2 separate regions of the Homo sapiens genome follow, and region 2 is linked to region 1. Evidence: fine-mapped QTL for protein levels in blood plasma. Region 1 holds a variant in brackets. A gene starts in the other region. All regions are shown on their reverse strands.

The links. A credible set is the group of variants that fine-mapping cannot tell apart. PIP is the posterior inclusion probability: the model's chance that the variant is causal. Protein levels are from antibody-based Olink assays in UK Biobank. Linkage for the fine-mapping came from a reference panel and not from the study's own genotypes, which makes the PIPs less certain.
Region 2: MSMB starts here. The variant in region 1 is the best candidate, but not a certain one, in a credible set for the plasma level of the MSMB protein (UK Biobank, PIP 0.59).

What each region holds. Positions count from the first base shown.
Region 1 is chr6:36,945,168-36,953,499 of GRCh38, reverse strand. It overlaps a transcript of PI16 not described here. Among named protein-coding and RNA genes, the nearest start is that of PI16, 5.4 kb to the left of the region's middle. The variant T/C (reference allele first, on the strand shown) is at 647.
Region 2 is chr10:46,042,069-46,050,400 of GRCh38, reverse strand. It overlaps MSMB (microseminoprotein beta), which reads left to right and starts at 4,132. Exons shown (of 4, transcript NM_002443.4): 1 at 4,132-4,166. The coding sequence starts at 4,164. RefSeq lists an enhancer at 5,682-6,183.

The DNA.
Region 1 (8,332 bases):
AGCAAAGTTGCAGGATACAAAATTAACACATAGAAATTAGTTGTTTCTATACACTAATAATGAAAAATCCAAAAAGGAAATTAAGAAAACAATTTCATTTATAAAAGCAATGAAAAAGAATAAAAAGAATAAAATTCTTACCAATAAACTTTTTTTTTTTTTTTGAGATGGAGTCTCGCTCTGTCACCCAGGCTGGAGTGCAGTGGCATGATCTTGGCTCACTGCAACCTCTGCCTCCTGGGTTCAAGTGATTCTCCTGCCTCAGCCTCCCAAGTAGCTGGGACTACTTGCCCACCATGCTGCCCACCATAGCTGCTACCATGCCCGGCAAATTTTTGTATTTTTAGTAGAGATGGGGTTTCACCATGTTGGCCAAATGGTCTTGATCTCTTGACCTCGTGATCCGCCCGCCTCGGTCTCCCAAAGTGCTGGGATTACAGGTGTGAGCCACTGCGCCTGGCCCTTAGCAATAAACTTAACCAAGGAAGCAAAAGACTTGTACGCTGAAAATCACAAGTGTTGACAAACAAAGTGAAAGAAGACACAAATAAATGGAAAGTCATCCTATATTCATGGATTAGAAGACTTGATATTGCTAAGGTGTCAATGTTGCCTGAAGCAATCTACAGATTCAATGCAATCCCTA[T/C]TGAAATGCAAATCATAATATTTTTATAGAAACAGAAAAATCCATCCTAAAATTTATATGGAATCTCAAAGGACCCCAAATAGTCAAAACAATCTTGAAAAAGAACAAAATTGGAAGTCTTACAGTTTCTGATTTTAATATGTAACCACAAATCTACAATAATTAAAATAGTGTGGTATTAGTATAAAGACAGACATTTAGACTAATGGAATAGAATAGCCCAGAAATAAACTCTTACACATATGGTCAAATGATTTTAGACAAGGGTACCAAGACCGTTCAACGAGGGAAAGGCAAGTCTTTTAAAGAAGACTTAGAAAACTGGAATGTCCACATGCGAAATAATGAAGTTGAATCTTTACCGTAAGTATATTAAAAAATTAACTCCAAAATGGATTAAATACCTAAACATAAAAGCTAAAACTACAAAACTCTTAGAAGAAAATATAAGGGGGACTTCTTGGCATTGGATGTGGCAAGGATTTCTTGGATATGACACCAAAAGCATAGGCAACAAAACAAAAATAAATTGGACTTCATTAAAATTAAGAACTTTCGGGGGCAGAGTGTAGTGGCTCATGCCTGTAATCCCAGCACTTTGAGAGGCCAAGGTGGGTGGATCACTTGAGGTCAAGAGTTCGAGACCAGCCTGGCCAACATGGTGAAACCCCGTCTCTACTAAAAATACAAAAATTAGCTGGGTGTGGTGGCAGGCGCCTGTAGTCCCAGCTACTCAGGAGGCTGAGGCAGGAGAATTGCTTGAACCTGGGAGGCAGAGGTTGCAGTGAGTCAAGATCCAGTCACCGCATTCCAGCCTGGGTGACGGAGTCTCAAAAGAAAAAAAAAAAAAAGACACAATTTCCCATGAACTGGGAAAAAATATTTGCAAATCATGTATCTGATAAGGGATTAATATCTAGGATATATATTTTGTGGGTTTTTTGTTGTTGTTTTTGAGACAGGGTCTCGCTCTGTCACCCAGGCTGGAGTGCACTCGCGCAATCTTGGCTACTGCAACCTCCGCCTCCCGGGTTCAAGTGGTTCTCCCACCTCAGCCTCCCAAGTAGGCTGGGACGTCAGACATGCGCCACCATGCCTGGCTAAGTTTTGTATTTTTAGTAGAGACAAGATTTCGCCATGTTGGCCAGGCTGGTCTCAAACTCCTGACCTCAAGTAATCTGCCCGCCTTGGCCTCCTAAAGTGCTGAGATTACAGGCATGAACCACCACACCTGGCCAATATCTAGGATATATTTTTAAAACTCCTACAACTCAACAACAACAACAACAACAAAACAATTTGAAGTCGATTCAGTGGCTCAGCACTTTGTAATCCCAGCAGTTTGGGAGGCTAAGGCGGGCCGATCGCTTGAGACCACAAGTTCAAGATCAGCCTGGGCAACAAGGTGAAACCTCATCTCTACAAAAAATACAAAAATCAGCTGGGCATGGTGGCATGCACCTGTAGTCCCAGCTACTAGGAAGGCTGAGGTGGGAAAATTGCTTGGGCCTGGGAGGTCAAGGCTGCAGAGAGCCGAGATCACACCACTGCACTCCAGACTCCAGCCTGGGCAACAGAGGGAGAGCCTGTCTCAAGAAAAAAAAATTTGATTAAATAGGCAAAGGACTTGAAAATTCATTGTTCATTTATGCAATTATTCATGCAATTATTCATTGTCGAAAAGACATTTCTCCAGAGAAGATATACAAGTGGCCAATTAGCACATGAAAAGATGATCGACATCACTTACCATTAGGGAAATACAGTGAAATACCACTTCACACTCATTAGGATGGCTATTATTAAGAAACAAAACAAAACAGAAAATAGCAAGTGTTGACAAGGATATGGAGAAATTGAAACCCTTGTACATTGCTTCTGGGAATGTAAAAGGTGCAGCCACTGTGGAAGACAGTGTGACGGTGCCTCAAAAAATTAAACACAGAATTACCATATGAGCCAGAAATTTCACTTCTGGGTATATACGCGAAAGAGTTAAAAGCAGGGACTTGGCCGGGCACGGTGGCTCAAGCCTGTAATCACAGCATTTTGGGAGGCCGAGGCGGGCGGATCACCTGAGGTCAGGAGTTCGAGACCAGCCTGACCAACATGGAGAAACCCTGTCTTTGCCAAAAGCGCAAAATTAGCCGGGTGTGGTGGCACATGCCTGTAATCCCAGCTACTCAGGAGGCTGAGGCAGGAGAATCGCTTGAACCCAGGAAGTGGAGGTTGCGGTGAGCCGAGATCGTGCCATTGCTCTCCAGCCTGGGCGACAAGAGCGAAACTCCATCTTAAAAAAAAAAAAAGCAGGGACTCAAACAAATATATTTGTACACCGGTGTTGATAGTAGCATTAGTCACAATAGCTAAAAGGTGGAAACAACCCAAATGTTCATCAATGAATGAACTAATAGTGTAGTATACACAAAATGTACGATCACATATACAATGGACTATTATTTTGCCTTAAAAAGGAAGGAAATTCTGACACATATTACAACATGGATGAACTTTGAAGACATTAGGCTAAGTGAACTAAGCCAGACACAAAAGAACAAATCTTACATGATCCCACTTATATGCAGTACCTAGCTAGAGTAGGCAAATTTATAGAGACAGAAAATAGAATGGTGATTGCCGGGGGCTGGAGGAAGGAGAGAATGGGGAGTTAGTGTTTAGTGGTGTAGAGGTTTGGTTTGGGAAGAGGAACAAGTTCTGTTGATGGACGGTGGTGATGGTGACAATGCTGTGAAAGTCCATACTTAATGCCACTGAACTGGACACATAAACATGGGTAAGATGGTAAATTTTATGTTCTATATTTTACCACAGTAACAACCACCACCACAAAAACAGGAATTCTTACATTGGCCAGGAGTACGGTGACAAAGGAAAAATCGTGTCTGGAGGGAGCCTTTACAACCCAGGCCACTTGAGCCACCATGAGAAAAAAAAAAAATATCCAACTTTAGCTCACAATCAGAAAGTATCAAATGCATCAGGAACTGAGTCACCATGAGCAACAGACAGACAGCATACATCACAATAGGAGAATTTCTGACCCTGAAACTTGAGATAATAGAACAATCTGAAAAAGACTTCAAATAACTGTATTTACAATGAATATGCAAATAAATGGGTAGCTGAAAAGGGGAGAAGGAAGACTTAGGGGGTAGAGGGGAACAAGATGTGGAAAAGAATCGGAAGAATTCAGGAAAATGGGTTAGTCTGGGGAGAAAGGGACGCTATTTGAGAAAAATCCAAGTGGAGGAAAGAAGACTGACCAGATTAGACTACAGCCCAGACCCCTGGGCAGCTGTCCCAGGGTGTTCAGGTGGCAAAGCTGTGAGATGGATCTCTTTCCTCCATAGACGGGAGAACTCAGTGAGTTCCTGACAACTTAGGCTTGAGATAGAAATAAGGGGACTTAGTGACCGGGCGCGGTGGCTCAAGCCTGTAATCCTAGCACTTTAGGAGGCCAAGGTGGGCGGATCACCTGAGGTCAGGAATTGGAAACCAGCCTGGCCAACATGACGAAACCCCATCTTCACAAAAAATACAAAAATTAGCCAGGTGTGGTGGTGTGTGCCTGTAGGCCCAGTTACTTGGCAGGCTGAGGCAGGAGAATCACTTGAACCCGGGAGGCGGAGGTTGCAGAGATCACGCCACTGCATTCCAGCCTGGGCGACAGAGCAAGACTCCAGTGAGAAGAAAGAAAGAGAGGAAGAGAGAGAGAGAGAAGAGAGGAGAGAGAGAAAAAGAAAATAAGGCTGGGTGCGGTGGCTCACACCTGTAATCCCAGTACTTTGGGGGTGGATCACGAGGTCAAGAGATTGAGACCATCCTGGCCAACCAACATGGTGAAACCCTGTCTCTACTAAAAATCCAAAAATTAGCTGGGCGTAGTGGCACACGCCTGTAGTCCCAGCTACTTGGGAGGCTGAGGCAGAATAATCGCTTGAACCCAGGAGGCGGAGGTTGCAGTGAGCCGAGATCGCGCCACTGCACTCCAGCCCGGGTGACAGAGTGAGACTCTGTTTCAAAAACAAAAACAAAAACAAAAAAGGAAAGAAAGAAAGGGAAGGGAGGGTGGGAAGGGAGAGAAGGAAGGGAAGGAAGGGGAGAGAGAGAGAGCGAGAGAGAAAGGGAGACAGTAAGGAAAGGAGGGAGGAAGGAGGGAGGGAGGAAGGAGGGAAGGAGGGAGGGAGGAAGGAGGGAAGGAGGAAGGAAGGAAAAAAAAAAAGAAAGAAACACAGAGCTGGGCGTGGTGGCTCAGGCTTGTAATCCCAGCACTTTGGAAGGTGGAGGTGGGCGATTGCTTGAGCCCAGAACTTTGAGACCAGCCTAGGCAACAAAGTGAGACCCTTTCTCTATTTCTAAAAACTTTTAAAACATTAAAATGAATAAAATAAAATAAAAACAGACTTCCCAAGGAATTAAAGTGCTGACCTGGCCTGGGAAGTGCTGGACTCAGGAATGGAAGGACACAGTTCTCAGATGCCCCCCGGGTGGAACCAGGCACTGGCACTACAGGTTGCCCTGGTGTGGTCATCTCTGTGGCCTCTGCCTCCAGTCATGCCCCTTCAATAGCAAGGAAAACAGCTCCGTAGATGCAGGACAATGGGCAGCATTCATTCACTCAACAAAGGCTTACAGAGCCTCTCATTGTGCCAGGCGCTGAGCTGGGTGAACAACAGCAGGAAACCAACCAGCAACCACAGGCAGTGTTGTGGATGAGAGTGTGGGGCTTACCGGCTGGGTGGCCTGGGGCAGGTGATTTCTCTGCTCACTGGCCTGTTTCCACATCTGTACACTGGGGCTTAGAACAGAACCTACCTCCTAGGATGGTTGTGAGCATTAAATGAGTTAGTACATGGGTAGGGCCTGTGATCATCCCTGGAACATAGTAAGTGCTCATTGAGTTAGCCAGTATTCACATACAGCAGGTCCTTGAATAACGTCATTTCATTCCATGTCTTTTTGTCATGACATTGGTAAGAGAAAAATTCGATTCCTGCAGGGGCCACTGTCTGCGTGGTGTTTGCATTCTCCCCACGTCTGCGTGGGTTTTCTCCCATGTCCCAAAGCTGTGCACGCTAGGCTCATTGGTGAGTCTGCATGGTCCCAGCACGAGTGAGTGTGGGTGTGTGAGCACCATGTCCTGTCCAGGGTAGGTTCCCACCTGGCATCCTGAGCTGCCAGGATGGGCTCCAGCCACCCACGACCCTGAACTGGAATAATTGGGTAAATAATTATCTTGTTTTTCTTTCTTTCTTCTTTCTTTCTCTTTCTTTCTTTTTTCTTTCTCTCTCTCTCTCTCTCTCTTTCTTTCTTTCTTTCGAGAGAGTGTCTCGCTCTGTCACCCAGGCTGGAGTGCAGTGGCACAATCTCAGCTCACTGCAACCGCCACCTCCTGGGTTCAAGTGATTCTTGTGCCTCAGCCTCCTGAGTAGCTGGATTACAGGTGCCCACCACCACAGTCAGCTAACTTTTGTATTTTTAGTAGAGATGAGGTTTCACCAAGATGGCCAGGCCGGTCTCGAACTCCTGACCTCAGGTGATCCACCCACCTGGGCCTTGCAAAGTGCTGGGATTACAGGCGTAAGCCAGTGCACCTGGCCTAATTATCTTGTTTTTCTTAATTTTTCTTAAATGTATGTATAGCTTACATTCATTTCAGTGTTTAATATTAGAAGTGTTTTGATCTTTAGAAGTTTGGTGATGTTTTTGTCACCAGAAATATGTCACAGGAATTCTATTCATTTATATCAATTAGCCTATGGTAAAATTGGTTTTGTTTCCCTTAAAGTTGCAGTTTCCAAGAGTCTATCAGCAACTTAAGTGAGAACTTACTGTATTTGTTATTATATATCTTCCACCTGTTATATATAACAGGTGGAAAAGTTTGCATAGCCTGAGGCTATAGCAAAGAAAAAAAATACAGCAACCTGACTTGGCTTTTACCCTGGGGAGGACTGCCTTGGCCTGGGAGAGCTCCTAGGTAGAAAGGGAGGACACACCCCTCTCTGAGGGACAGGGGCACTGGTTGAGTGTTGCCAGGATGTGGGCTGGGGAGGCCTCCTGGGAAGGGCATTTGGTTGGAAGCAGAGACACCTGGCTTGCCTGAGAGGGTTGGGTGAGATGGGAATGAAGACTGGGAGGCTGACCAGAGCCAGCCAGCGCATGTGGGGACCCAGGTGTGCAGACAGAGTCCACTCTGCGTGTGCACACTTATACGTGGTTCACAGAGCTTCTCCCATTTGAGTGACCTCACCCACTCCTCACAGGATAGCTCTCCAAGGTGAGTCTCACTGTCACCCCGCATAAGGAGACTGATGCTCAGAAAGGTAAGTGATTTCCCCAGTATAGGTCGGGGAGGGTCTGGAATAGTGACAAAGTGGTGGGACCAGAGCCAGGGACCTGCCACTAGGAAAAGAGGGCAGTTAAGGCAAGCACATGGAGGAGAGAGAGGAATGGAAGAGGTGAAGTTAGGGGAGGGTGAGAGGGAGAAAGAGAAGGCAGCATCAGAGTAGACGGTGTGTTTTATCCATAAACCCAGACTTGGGGAAAATAGATTTTCTTCTGTATTATTATTTCTGTATATTTTAAATCAAGTTTTATTTTGAACAGCAGTATAACTCCATAACAAAAAAATAAGCCAAAAAGGAAAAAAAAATAATTCCATCTCTGGCATTTGCTTCTCGTCTGAGCAGGTGGTCCACAGCCACTCAAAGTGTGGTCCACGGCCCGGTGCTGGTCTGCCAGAGATTCGCCACTGTTTTTCAGCACAACAGGCCCAGAAAATGAGAGTAAATGTTTAGAAACTCTTACAGCAATTGGACATGGTTGTTTTCTGCCTGTTGAATCTATGATTTAAAAGTTGGGCTTGTATTTCATGTATCTGCTTTTCATTTCATTTTTATTATTTATTTATTTTATTATTTTTTTTTGAGACCAAGTCTCGCTCTGTCACCCAGGCTAGAGTGCAGTGTCACAATCTCTGCTCACTGCAACCTCTGCCTCCCCGGTTCAAGCAATTCTCCTGCCTCAGCCTCCCGAGTAGCTAGGATTACAGGGGTGTAACACCACGCCCAGCTAATTTTTGTATTTTTAGTAGAGACGGGGTTTCACCATGTTGGCTAGTCTGTTCTCGAACTCCTGACCTCAGGTGATCTGCACCTGCACCGTCTTAGCCTCCCAAAGAGCTGGGATTACAGGCATGAGCCACCAAGCCTGGCCTGATAACTTTTTATTTTGAAATAATAATAGACTCACAGGAAATCACGAAAAAAGTACGTAAAATCCCATGAGCTGTTTACCCAGATTCTTCCAATGATGACATCTTATATAACAATAATACAATACCCAAACCAGGAAATGGACATTCATTTTCCTAATAGGTAATGATTTTGAACATCTTTTCCTGTGTTTTCTGCAACCCACATATCCTCTTTGGTGGACTGTCTGTTCGTGTCTTCTAGTTCTATTTGGATTTTTTTTCTGTTGAGTTTTGAGAGTTCTTTATGTATTTTAGATACAAGTCCTTTGATGGATATACATTTAATCATTTATTTTTACGATATTTTACAAAACTTTACATTTGGGATGGATTGGAAATTTTATAAAATCAAACTGGTCAATCACCACTGACAGTTTGAGAAGCAATCTTAGCATCTTCTTGCCTTA
Region 2 (8,332 bases), not on the chromosome of region 1:
CTCATTCCTTAGTTCTAACTCCAGAATGGGTGTGCTGACCATGAAAAAAATCAGGGAAATATTTTAACATGTGTGACACTTGAAGATTAATATCTTTAATATTAGAAGCCTTAACTAATCCAGAAGAAAAATATAAATAACCCAAACAGAAAAATAGCTAAAGGACATGAGTGAACAGGGTACTCACAAAAGAAGAAAAACAATTGGTCAATACATATACAAAAAAAGGTCTAGGCTGTGCACGGTGGCTCACGCCTGTAATCCCAGCACTTTGGAAGCCCGAGGGGGGCAGATCACGAGGTCAGGAGATCAAGACCATCCTGACTAACATGGTGAAACCCCGTCTCTATTAAAAATACAAAAAATTAGCCGGGTGTGATGGAGGGTGCCTGTAGTTCCAGCTACTCGGGAGGCTGAGGCAGGAGAAGGGCGTGAACCTGGAAGGTGGAGCTTGTACTGAGCTGAAATTGCACCATTGCACTGCAGCCTGGGAGACAGAGCGAGACTCCGTCTCAAAAAAAAAAAAAAAAAAAAAAAAAAAGGTCTAATCTTGCCAATTAGCAAAGAAAAATAAATTAAGACAAAGCATTTCCCACATATCATAGTAACAGGTGATAATCTAAGAGAATTATAATTTTCTTTTACCCAGAAATTCTACCTTTGTGATTTTTTTTTTTTTTGAGATGGAGTTTCGCTCTTGTTGCCCAGGTTGGAGTGCAATGGCGTGATCTCAGCTCACAGCAACCTTCGTCTCCCGGTTTCAAGTGATTCTCCTGCCTCACCCTCCGGAGTAGCTGGGATTACAGGCATGCTCCACCACGCCCGGCTAATTTTGTATTTTTAGTAGAGACGGGGTTTCTCCATGTTGGTCAGGCTGGTCTCGAACTCGTGACCTCACGTGATCCACCCACCTCGTCCTTCCAAAGTGCTGGGATTACAGGTGCGAGCCACCTCACCCGGCCTCTATGAATTTATCTTAAAGAAATTAGTATAAGTGTGGGAAATTTTTATCTGAAGGACCTGGATTTCAACAGCGTTTCTTTTTTTTTTTTTTGAGACAGAGTCTCGCTCTCTCGCCCAGGCTGGAGTGCAGTGGCGCGATCTCCGCTCACTGCAAGCTCCGCCTTCCGGGTTCACGCCATTCTCCTGCGTCAGCCTTCCGAGTAGCTGGGACTACAGGCGCCCGCCATGACGCCCGGCTAATTTTTTTGTATTTTTAGTAGAGACGGGGTTTCACCATGTTAGCCAGGATGGTCTCGATCTCCTGACCTCGTGATCCGCCCGTCTCGGCCTCCCAAAGTGCTGGGATTACAGGTGTGAGCCACCATGCCCAGCCCAGTGTTTCTAATTATAGAAAAAAAAGTCAGAAACAACCTGAGTGTTCAACAAGAGGTACCTGACCAAATAAATGATGGTCCATATCATTCCATGGAATAAAATGTAGCCATTAAAATGATAATCAGCCTGGGCATGGTGGCTTATGCCTGTAATCCCAACACTTTGGGAGGAGGAGGCAGGAGCATCACTTGAGCCCAGGAGTTCAAGACCAGGCTGGGCAGCATAGCAAGACCCTGTCTCTACAAAAAAAATCTAAAAATTAGCTGGGTGTGGTGGCACGCTCCTGTAGTCCCACCTACTTGGGAGGCTTAGGTGGGAGGATCAATTGAATCTAGGAATTGGAGGTAACAGTGAGCTATAATGGTGCCACTGCACTCCAGCCTGAGCAGCAGAGCAAGACTATGTCTTTAAAAAAAATTAAAATAAATAAAAAGAAAAATAAATAATTAAAAGAAATTAAGTTGGTTCCATCTATAAGGATGACAGTTGAGGTAGGATCAACACTGAAAACTGATCAGGCAGGTTTGGACAGAGCTGGCTGTCACACACCCGGAGAGCACTGCTCATTTCATTTGCCTTCCTCCCTGTGGGCAGCTGGCCACACCTGCTCTGAGCATCCCTTTCTCAACCCCTGGGGAGCAGTAGATGAGCTCATTTCAGCAGTGATATGGGTTGGTCTTGCCAGGATACTTTCTACTTGGGAATACCTGAGATAACCCAGGTGAAATCCTGTTCTGGGCAGCTGCTTTGCACCAGGCACCCTGCTGGTCACTGGAAGGCACACAGACAGGAATAGGTCACAGTCACTGTCTGGGTCACAAAGTTCTTAACTGCAAACAATAGAATTTACTCTAGGTCATTTGAGGTGGAAAGAGATTTGTTAGAGAATTCAAGCCTCTACTAACGGCCAGAGACACAGGCTTTCTTGGCACAAGTTCAGGTAGAGCACTGAAACCACACTGCTGCTTGGCTCCAGCAAGACCACCTTGCTACCAGTCACAGTCACAGCCCCCATGCACTGACACTGCACACTGGACTCCAAGAAACCCTTGCCCTAAGAGCCAGAACCCTCCACACCATCATTCCTAGGGAGATTCTGCATGATGCCAGTGTCCTTGGACCCTCTCTGAAGAGGACTTTTTGAGAGGAGAGTGTTTGTGGAGCCGAGGTTTGTGCCTGTACCCTGGAGGTAAGCAGGTGAGGGCAGCAAATCCTAGTTCCTCTCAATGTAAGGCAGAACTTCCCACTTCACACTGTGGGAAGTTCTTCAAACTTGGAGTTTTAAAAGAATCCAAGGGGCTACAGTGCATGATGAATGTGCCCCGATTTCCTGGAACTTAGAGTCGATGAACACTTAACTTATGCAGGTAAAGGCAGAAGTGTGTGGCACCGTTGGTGAGTGAGGAGGCAGCCAGACAGCACTACAGCTCTTCTAAGGAGCAGGAGAGTGACCTCAAGCTGTGTTAGGGGTGGTGAGGCTGATTTTAGGGAGGGTAGAGGATGGTGCTGGAAAGGGCCACTGTGGCCAGCTCAGATGAGCTTCAAGGATCCCCTGGTTAGGAGCATGAACTCTCATCTGTGGGCAGAGGGATCTCAGGTTAAATTTTAGGAACTGTAGCAAGCTGTGGCGAGGAGTGAGGGGACTTTTTGGGATAAAATTGTCTTATGAGCTCAATTGCATCCCCTAAAAATTCATTGGTTTAAGCCCTAACCCCCAATATCCCAGAATGTGACTGTAATGGAGACACGGCCTTTAAAGAGGTGGCTTAGGTAAAATGAGATAGTTAGAGTGGACCCTAATCCAATACAGCTAGTGTCCTTATCAGAAGAGGAAATTTGGACACAGAGAGAGATGCCAGGGATGCATGCCATGTAAGAGGCAGCAAGAGCATGGCCATCTGCAAACCAAAGAGAGAGGGCTCAGAGGAAAACAAGCCTTCCCCAATGGCTTGACCTCACATTTCTAGTCTCCAGAACTGTGAGCAAATAAATTTCTTTAGTCAAAGCCACCCAGTTGCAGTGTTTTGTTGTGGTGGCAGAGCAAACAGATAAAGTAGTAAGTCCCTCCAGCACCCTAGGAGGTTCTGCTTGTTGCCATTCCCCAAAGGCCATCCTAGCCATGATGAGGGCAGGTGCGGTTGTTTGGGAGGAGACCACTGTGGAACAAAGAGAAACAAGGCTTGCTTGATGCAGCAGGGAGTAGACTACAGATTCAAGAAGGGCTCTAGAAAGGTCCAGCAATTCAGCTTGTCAGGGAACCCCGAGCTGTATGTAGTTCTTGCTCTCCTGTGCCCTGCAGGATGGCTTGACCCATTTCTGTTCTCATGTCAGACCCTAAGGGCAGGGTCATCTGGGCCACAGACCCAGGCCCGGTGGGCCTGGTGGGCTGACCTGTGGGCTATTCTTATGCCTTCAGGAAACCCACCTTTACCACCTGGCTGTTGTGACTGGCATCGCTGAGGCTGTTTCTTTGTGTATAAAATCGAATAAGGACACATCACGTGCTAGCAATCCACCAGCATAGGGCGAAGGCTCAGCAAAGAGAAGTTCTCTCCTCCTCTGCTCTTTTAGGTCAGCAGCAAATGCAGATCGGGGTGGGGACAAGGTAAACACATAACTTGGGTGGAGATGTGATTGATTAATAACTCATAAATCATCTGAAACCATACTTTCCTTTTGATAGTCAACCCTCTGTAAACACTCAATGTGTTCTCACCTTGTTATCATTCCCAATGATGTCGAATGCGTGGTTGCCCTCTCCAGTATAAAAGTTTGATGCAGCTTTGCCTGGATGTACCTGTCTATAAGGAGTCCTGCTTATCACAATGGTAGGTAACTGGTTTTATATATAAAGGCTAGAAAAGCAAAAGAGAATATGTATTCCTATTTTAATATGCGTGTGCTTCTACCACATAGCATTGAATGGTAAATGTGACCTAGTTAGGAACCTTATGTTATTACCTGCAATTCAATGTGCAGAGTATGAGAGTCTGAGAGCTTGCGAAAATTGTAATGAGTTTAGCACTAGTTCTGTTCTCTAAGATCTAAGTTGTTTTTCCTTCCAGTAATTCTGGGGTTCAATTAGATTTCATAAGTGTCTCTAATTCTTGGGTCCTATGTGAGTAATTTGAAATTAAAAATAATTTCAGAGCTACATGACTGCATCGTTTTTGAGATGAGGGAACTGAGCCTGGGGAGGGGAAGAAGCTGCCACTGGGGTCTCACCGCAAGCCTGTGAATGAGCTGAGATAGGAACCCAGGCATTCCTCTCTCCCTGCCAGGGGCTCCCAAACTTGGCTGTGCAGTGGAAACTCCGGGGGAATTTTGAAGAACACTGACACCCATCTTCCACCCCGACACTCTGATTTAATTGGGCTGCAGTGAGAACAGAGCATCAATTTAAAAAGCTGCCCAGGTCATTTTAATACTCAAGTTTGGGAACCATTTCCCTAGGCCCTTTTCACTGTATCATGTGTTAAGGAAAAATCTTGGGTTTGGGGCTGTGTTTGTTGGTTTATTTGTTTGTTTTTGAGACAGGATCTCACTCTGTTGCCCAGGCTGGAGTGCAGTGGTGCAGTCATGATTCACTGCAGCCTGGACCTTCCTGGGCTCAGGTGATCCTCCCATCTCAGCTTCCCAAGTAGCTGGGACCACAGGCGAGTGCCACCATGCCCGACTAATTTTTGTATTTGTTTTAGAGATAGGATTTTGCTATGCTGCCCAGGCTGGTCTTGAACTCCTGGGCTCATGCAATCTGCCCACCTCAGCCTCCCAAAGTGGTGGGATTACTGGTGTGAACCACTGTGCCTGGCCAAGAAAGAATTTTGCTTCAAAATTTATAAAAACCCATGCAGGCTTTTCTTGTGTCTTAAACTTGATCTTTCTTAAAACATTCTTTACTAACGCTGGGGACTGAACTGGGCTGCTCTGGGGGCTGCAAGGGAGATGAGGCAAGAAACAGCCAGCCAAGTGGGAGGAGCCAAGGGAGGTGGGAGAGGGTCCTCAGGAGGGGACCCCGGGCCTCCTCTGGGCCACTCGGCAAGACAAACTTGCTCTCAGAAACTGTCCGGAGGCAGAACTGGGGATGGTAAAACAACAGTGGGGTGGGAGGTCCTCCCCATCTCCACTAGACAGGCTCCTCCAGCCTATACTCTATGCAGCCTCACAGTGAACTTAGCAAGCTGCAGAGCTGGCAATACCTCTGCCTGCCTAAGATCCTGAGGACCCCCAACTCTTTATTTATTTATTTATTTATTTTATTATTGTTATTTGTAGTAGAGATGAGTTTTTACTATGTTGCCCAGGCTGGTCTCTAACTCTTGGGCCCAAGTGATCCTCCCACCTTGGCTTCCCAAAGTGCTGGGATTACAGGTGTGAGAAATTATGCCTGGCCAGACCCCCAACTCTTGATCATGGGATAACCCTTCCAGGAGCAGTAATTTACCTAAAGAGATACAACTTTTTTTTTTTTTTTTTTTTTTTTTTTTCTGAGACGGAGTCTCTCTGTCGCCCAGGCTGGAGTGCAGTGGCGCAATCTCGGCTCACTGCAAGCTCCACCTCCCGGGTTCACGCCATTCTCCTGCCTCAGCCTCCTGAGTAGCTGGGACTACAGGCGCCCGCCACCACGCCCAGCTAATTTTTTGTATTTTTAGTAGAGACGGGGTTTCACCATGTTAGCCAGGATGGTCTCGATCTCCTGACCTCATGATCCACCCGCCTCGGCCTCCCAAAGTGCTGGGATTACAGGCGTGAGCCACCGCGCCCAGCCAAGAGACACAACTTCTAAGGATACTGCCAGCCTGCTTCACCTCAAGGCTCGCTGTACCATCTAGAAAATCCTAGCCCATTCTGGCGTCGTGGTGTAATCTCCTGCACACATCAGGAGCTCAGGGTTACTAAATGCAGGAAAGGAAGACACAAAGGGAAGGAAGGCTGGTGGCAGAATAGAAGACAGGAATGAAAAAAGCTTTAGAGCCTCTCTACTCAGGGGTGGACCTCAGACCAGCAGCGTGGGCATCACCTGGGAGCTTCCGTGTAAGTCTAAAGACCTACTGAAGCAGAATCTGCAGGTTAATTAACAGGCTGTCTGGTTGGGCGCGGTGGCTCACGCCCATAATCCCAGCACTTTGGGAGGCCGAGGCGGGCGGATCATTTGAGGTCAGGTATTTGAGACCAGCCTGGCCAACATGATGAAACTACGTCTCTACTACAAATACAAAAATTAGCCAGGTGTGGTGGTGCACTCCTGTAATCCCAGCTACTCAGGAGGCTGAGGCAGGAGAATCACTTGAACCCGGGAGGCGGAGGTTGCAGTGAGCCAAGATTGCATCACTGAACTCTACTCTAGGCGATAGAACGAGATTCCGTCCCAAAAAGAAACAAACAAACAGACAAACAAAACAAAACAAAAAAAACTCCCAGGAATTTATATGCACATTAAAGCAGCACTGGGTTGGTCATTGTTCCTGGGTTCTCACCTGGGAGACTAGGTAAAGACACTGAGGCACTGGCTCCTAGATTGTGTTTCCTATGAGCTCCCTGGATAACTCTAATGGTCACCCAAATGGGAGAACCCCTCTTTTTACAGGGAAGGAAAACTGAGTTTCAGAGAGAGAGAGAGAGAGAGACAGAAAGGGAGGGAGGGAGGGAGGGAGAGAGAGAGAGAGACAGCATTAGGCTATTTCTGAGATACTGTCAAGTGGATAATCTCAAAATTAAATAATTTGCTCTCTGCTGTCACCATGTTTGGGCTCTCCCCCAGTGGTTCAATCTCCTGCCTCTGCTCTAGAGCTGCAGGAGACTTGGGGATTTTGCACATGTCACTTGTCCTGGGATGCAGCCCTGCTTGTCCCTGTTGACTCTCCTGCTTTGTGACTCAGTGAAACCAGATCCCCAAGATTCCAGTGATCCCCAGTACCCCAGGAGCCCTCTTTCTGCATGAAGGGAGTAAAAATGCTGTCAACAAGGCTGGCTTTTTGGGGGGAAAAGTTTAGGTTTCCACAATGATTTCGAGCTGAAGGCTACTCAGAAGAATGAAACAGAACAAGTGCCACTCCAAGTCCTGGCTTGAGCTGAATGTATCAAGGCGTTGTGTCATTTTTAAAGAATCTTTCTTTCTTTGTGGCTATAAAACTCATATATTTTATTGTAGAAAATTTAGAAAATAAGAGGAAAAGTCCAAAGAAGAAAATTGTCATAATCTCCCCATCCAAAGATGACTTGTTATTTGGTACAAAACCCTCAGTGTGTTCTGAGCATCTCTCTCCGCATCATGTATTTCATAGCCTGCTTCATTTCATGTCGTGACATGTGGTGATCAATTGCTCATGTGACTTCACCTTCTACCTTGCTGGCTCACCAGGTGTTTTTCTGAGTCACTGTTCTCCACTGGCTCTGTTCTTGGGCATTTTGTTTCTTTCCATTTTTCCACTGCAGTGAGCATCGTTGTGGAGGAGTCTGTCTCTGTCTCTGTCTCTGTGCCATTTTTAGGATCACATCTTGGAGATGAAAAGGTGAAATCAAATGTTGTAAACGGTTTTAAGAATGTGGATATATAGTAGCAAATTGTTCTCCTTAACGATTGTTCAAAGTAAGTCATTCTTGTGCATATCACCTCCCATAGATACCTCTATTTCCCTCTGGGTATTATAAATTAAATGATTATTCTCACCATCCCATTATGCTTCTATTTCATGCTACATATTTACATTTCTTTTGTTATCAGTAAGTTGAACTTTTTCATGTGTTTATTCATCATTTCTGTGTGTGTGTGTCTGTGTGTGAAATGCCACTTTATTTCTCTTGCCCTTTTTCTGTTTAAGATGTTTTTCTTCTCCCATTGGTATGTAATGATATTGTTCTGAAAATTTGATATCTTTCTAATTTCAGTTATGTTCTTATGACGTTTATATTCTCAAATCTATTTTTCTTTTATGCTTAGAATAAGTATTTATGTATATATGCTGTGATTATTTTATGATCTTATTGTAAAAAC